Regions from separate parts of the Homo sapiens genome. Here region 1 is linked to region 2. The links come from fine-mapping of genetic effects on gene expression. A gene starts in region 2. The other region holds a variant in brackets. All regions are shown on one strand. Distances are between the middles of the regions.

Region 1 (2,906 bases), 99 kb after region 2:
CACAACTGACTAGAGACCGCCCTTCTGGTCATGAGTTCACCCCTCCATTTCCCAGAGACCCTTCACTGGTCTAATGGTACTTTCCTACTCTGTAGCCACAACCTGAACTCCTTCAACTATCTCCTCCCATTCCCTTACTCAGTACCTGATGGGAATAGGGGATGAGGGTTGGGGGAGAGGCAGGTGTAAGAATCAAGGCTGTATTAGTCAGCTATTTCCACAACAATGTGTCACAACAAATCATCCCAAAATTAGGCTGTATGAAACCATAAGCATGTCTCGTGCTGATAGGTCAGCAGCATGGATGCCAATCAGCTGATGTAGGCTGGGTCTGCTTCAAGCTGTGGGTCCATCTGTGCTTGGTTTCTGTCTGAGCCGGGCTCAAGTTTGCTCCATGTGTGTTCCTTCCACAATCCCAGCTGGAGGAGTAGCAGCTAGCAAGGGGACACTCTTCTGGTGGTGACAGCAGAAATGCAAAGGGGGAGGCCCAACTATGCAAGCAGCTTTCAAGCCTCTGTTTGCATCACATGTGCTAACATCTCATTGATCAAATCAAGTCAGAGAAGCAAGCCCTAACTCAAGAGCAGGGAAGCATGTTCCACCTCTAGTGGGAAGATCTGCAAAGTCTCATGGTGAAGGTCACAGATGCAAAAATAAGTGAAGATCCAGGGCCACTTCCAAGTGGTTCACTTGTGCCTTGTAACCCCTGAGCCCCCAAGGCCGGTTGTTTCCTGCTTGCCTTCAAATGGAGGGATTAATCTGATCAGGCCCAACTGCCCTGCTTGCTTTTTGTTGTTATTATTTCCCTATTTCCACGAAGCTGAAGGCCACCGTACCTGAAAGCCTCAATGCTCAATGCAGAAACTTAACTTTCATGGGAGGCTTTATAGAACTTACGTAGGTCACATGGTGATGGTCACTTCAGTTGTTTTTCAGGCACTTGGGCCAGCTCCTGTCCAGCTAAAACTGGTTTAGACAACTGACTCTTCAACTGGTCTGAGCAAGTGCCTGAGAGGTGGCCTTTTGATATAAGAGGGCCAAAAATCTCACCCTCAAATCATGCTAATGCCACAATTTTCTGTGGATATGTCCTGTGAAATGTCATGGCATGTACCTGGAGTCCCAGCTATAGAGCAGGCTAAGGTGGGATGGCTTGAGGCTGTAGTGAGCTATGATCATGCCACTGCATTTCAGCCTGCGTGACAGAGCAACACCTTGTCTCAAAAGAAAAAAAAGAGAAGGAAGAAGGGAAGGAGGGAGGGAGTGAAAGAAGGGAAAGAAAGAGAAATAGAGAAATGCCTTTGGTCTTTGATGTTGGTAACCTTCAGATGGGGTTTTTGTGTGGTCGTCCTTTTCGTTTATTTGATGCTATTGCTTTCTGTTTGTTAGTTTTCCTTCTAACAGTCAGGCCCCTCTTCTGCAGGTCTGCTAAGAGTTTGCTGGTGGTCCACTCCAGACACTGTTTTCCTGGGTATCACCAGCAGAGGCTGCAGAACAGCAAAGACTGCTGACTGCTCCTTCCTCTGGAAGCTTCGTCTCAGAGGGGCACACGCCAGATGCCAGCCAGCGCTCTCCTACATGAGGTGTCTGTTGATCCCTGCTGGGAG[G/T]TGTCTCCCCATCAGGAGGCACGGGGGTCAGGAACCCACTTGAGGAGGCAGTCTGTCCCTTAGCAGAGCTTGAGCACTGTGCTGGGAGATCCACTGCTCTCTTCAGAGCCGGCAGGCAGAAAAGTTTAAGTCTGATGAAGCTGTGCCCACAGCCACCCCTTTCCCCCAGGTGCTCTGTCCCAGGGATATGGGAGTTTTATCTACAAGGCCCTGAATGAGGCTACTGCCTTTCTTTCAGAGATACCCTGCCCAGAGAGGAGGAATCTAGAAAGGCAGTCTGGCTACGGAGGCTTTGTGGCGCTGTGGTGGGCTCCAACCAGTCCAAACTTCTGATAAATTATAAAAATATATGTAACGTTAAAAACAGCCATGCACTGGGAATGGAGGTGTAGTTCAGGGTAGAGCTTTCCACACTAGCAGCGGAGTTTTCTGGCCAAAACCTGGAGGAGCTGTGTGGTCCTCATGCTATGTTGTCTCCATGATGCTTCCCAGGACTACTCTCTGATCCATGTCAGGGCCTAGGAACTCCCCCAACTTCACCAAGTCTTTCATGAACTGGATTTAATGCAAAGATCCCAGACTGAGAGATATCTATATATGTCAGTACTGCATGTGTCTCAATTTGTGTCTCCAAACTGCTATTTTGTAGTGTAAACAAGAAGACATCAAACATGGAGACCTAAAGGCTGTTCCAGCAGTAAACGGAAACACTCCTCTCAGCTGCTCCTGTCACCACGGACTGAGGGAAAGCGGGGAGATTGTGCAGGCATGTGAGCAGGGGCCAGGGTTTGGCAACTGGGGATGGACTTTTCTGGGGTGAGTTTGTGGTAAAATCAGTTGCTGGTCTTACTCTCTAAAAGTAAGCAGGAACTTTCAATGTGCTGTAGGACTCCTGGGTGCGATTACCAACATGAAAAGTGGTTATTAGACACTTATGACAAGCAGGGCGTATAGCTCAGGGGTAGAGCATTTGACTGCAGATCAAGAGGTCCCCAGTTCAAATCTGGGTGCCCCCTACTGCACTTTTTCTATTCATACAAGCTGTTATATTCTTCACAGAAGCTGTTGGTCACATTCCAGTTTCTTTTCATCCATTCCACCTATGATTTTCCCTGGAACTGGAAGCTACAGCTCAGGCCTACCCAGCTGCAACCTGGCTGGATAACTTCTCCCAGCACCAGTTCCACGGGTATCCCTCATATTCTTGGTATTCTTGGTATCTAGCTCCCTGCTCCCCCTATAGATGTAATTTCTCAAGCTGTGATGCAGTATGCTTCTGGGTTTTTCCAGGGCAGACCA
Region 2 (2,906 bases):
GTGCGCTGCTCACTCCAGCCCAGCTTCTTACTGACAAGTGGCTGGAATATGTGGGGCTGTCCTTGGACTCCTGCCAGGGGAGCTGAAACTCTTTGCTTGAGAGGAGCTGATGGTAAGAGGAGCCGGATCCCTCATCCACTGCCCACCCGCAGGATGAAGTCCAGGCATGCAAACCCCTTCTTAGTCTCTCTCTGCAGACTCCTTTCCCACTGCCTCCAAACCAAAACCATCTTCTCCAGGCTCATGGACTCCTTTCTGTGCCTGCACACGCCCTGCACTGTCCCGTCTCTCTGCGCCTTTGCCCAGGCACTCCTCCCTCCCTGAAAGCACCACCGGTCTAGCTGGGCCTGAAATCCTAGCCTTCCCTAAAAGCCCGGCTCAAATCACAGAGGCGCAGAGCATCAGGCCAGGAGGGGTGGACAGCGGTACCAAGAGGCCCCCTGACACTCCTTCCCCCGGAGCCCACCGCAAGCTTCCACCTGGGCGCCAGCACTCACCCCTTTCTGTTTTGCACGATTATTGCCCGCGTACCTGCCTGCCTGGTCCTTGAACACACAGCCACTGTGTGTCTTTTCACACTTTCCAGCTGGGTAAGCCTGGGCAAGTTAAGTTCTCTAGGCCCCGGGTTTTTCTTTTGTATGACAGAGATTAACACCAGTACCCATCCCACAGGCTTGCTGTGAGGACAGACTAACGCCTCAACAGGGCTTGTGGAAGTGCGTGGCTCTATATTCCCTTCCGCGCCGACCCCGGGAAGCTGGGCACGTAGTGGGAGTCGGTGTATGCGGATTCGAAGCCGGACACCTCCCAGGTGCCACCAGGCCGCTGCGGGGGAGATGGAGAGGGACCTACAGGCCGAGCGCCAGGCAGAGAAAGGAGCCGCGGGTGGGGGGGCACCCAGAAGGAGGGGACAGCGGCTGGGGCGGGGGCAGGAAGCCCCGGAGGGCCCAAAGAACTTGGCGTGGGGCGGCCCGGGGCGGGGACAACCGTTCCGCCAGCGCTCGGGTTCGGCTCGGAGTGGGGGCCCGGCCGACGGGCGCAGTAGGCCCCGGCGGACCCCGCGCCCCATTCGCGGGAGCCCCAGGCCCGGTGGTCCGGCCCGGACCCCGGAACCCCTCCCCAGGGCCTGCGGCGCCGTGTGCCGGGGCCGGGCCGCCTGGGGCCCCCAGGCCGCGAGTCCCTGCGCGCGCGGGTCGCCCTTACCGGAGCCGCGACCGCCTCGGCCATGGCCCTGCGCTGTCCCGCCCGGCCCGGAGGAAGTCGTCGTCGCCGCCGCCGCGCGCGGCACCACGCAGGCCCGGCCGCCCGGTGCTCTCCGCAGGCGGCGCCTGCCTGGCCTTTCCTCTGCCGCCGCTCCTCGCTGGCTGCCCCTGCGCCGCGCCGCCCGCAGTCGCGCCGCCTCCGTCAGCGCCCGGCCGGTCCACACTGCATCCTGGGAGCCGGCGCCGCGGCCCGGCAGACGAAGGCCCGTGAGGCTTCCTGGAGGCAGCGCGGCCGCACAGCCCCACCTGCAGCCTGAGAGGCGAACGGCAGGCGCTGCGCCCGCCTGCCCGCGGCCCCGCCCCGCCCCGCCCAGCCCCGCCCGCGGGGCCCGACGGGAGGACCTAGCGACCCCGGGCCGACCCCGCGACCCCGCGACCCCGCGACCCCGGCCGGACTGCCGAGCGCGGGGGGAGTCACTGCGCTGGCCCCGCGGCCCAGCCCGAGGACTCGGTTATTGAAAGGGTCCCCCTCATGGGACCCGCCTGGCCGCGCCCGCGGGCGAGCACGGGCTTCCGGGCAGGGCGTCCCCCGGGTGACCGCGGCCAGGGCGGCCCCCTCGCCCTGGGATGCCCGGCTCCCCTTCCCCCGCCCCACGGGCACTTCTGCTGCCCGAGGTCCTGGGTCTGGAGGTTTAGGCTATTTTGGGGAGGACAGATGTAACTCATGCCCACCTGTGTTTGAAATGGAATAAATACTTCCAACAACAGGAATATAGTTCGGTAAACCCCGGTAGGCAACCACTTAGCATTTTCTGTAATGGGTTTATTACAGTAAATTTTTTTAATGGCATGAGCAATGGGACGCAATACCATCATTTAAAATGATTTCGGTGAAGGTCTTGGTAGGAACAGATGTTCATGATGTTTTAAGAGAAAAAGCCTGTCCAGGACGATCCTGTCTTTGTTTTAAAAATAACATTTTAAAACAATATAGGACATATGTAGCGTCATATACTGCGTACATGTATAATTACAGTTTTGAAAAGTTTGGAAGCATATATATCAACATGGCCTCAGTAGTTCTATTAAAGGTCTATTCCTTTAATAGACCACGGGCCGTTTTTATGCCTTTTCTAATTTTTTCCAATTCATGTTTTTATTTTTCCATGACAAGGATAGTATTTTTAAACAAGGAGAGAAAAATAAAAATTTAAATGTTCTCAAAGAGGCCAACCAGAGCAGGGGAAGGAGGGCGCCTTGGACGGGCCCCCACGTAGTTTCAGAGGCTCATTGCCTTTCAGGAACACGACTTGCTCATCTGTGTATTCCCCAAGACTAACTAGCCAACTGCCTAGCACACACTGATAAGAAAATATGTGAGAGATCTGTAATCTTTTTCAAAGAAGGCAGACCTTACAGAATAGATAAAATTTGAGCTGGATCTTGAAGAATTGGCAAAATATTGATAGGCAGAGAGCATTTCAGACCAGAGGGTGGTAGTAGAGGTGTGAGCTGGATGACAGCCCAAAAAAAAATTGATGTAGGAAGATATAAAGCATTTTAGGGCCGGGCGCAGTGGCTCACGCCCGTAATTCTAACACTTTGGGAGGCCAAGATGGGTGGATTGCCTGAGCTCAGGAGTTTGATACCAGCCTGAGCAACATGACAAAACCCCGTCTCTACTAAAAATAGAAAAAATTAGCG

What was found.
Region 1: its variant is fine-mapped to the expression of ZNF746 in whole blood (TOPMed, PIP 0.96).

The regions. Positions count from the first base shown.
Region 1 is chr7:149,595,404-149,598,309 of GRCh38, forward strand. It overlaps TRC-GCA20-1 (tRNA-Cys (anticodon GCA) 20-1), which reads left to right and starts at 2,552; the gene lies at 2,552-2,623. It also overlaps the pseudogene ZNF767P. The variant G/T (reference allele first, on the strand shown) is at 1,608.
Region 2 is chr7:149,496,310-149,499,215 of GRCh38, forward strand. It overlaps ZNF746 (zinc finger protein 746), which reads right to left and starts at 1,500. Exons shown (of 7, transcript NM_001394198.1): 1 at 1,204-1,500. The coding sequence starts at 1,227. RefSeq lists an enhancer at 1-761 and silencers at 895-954, 1,195-1,864.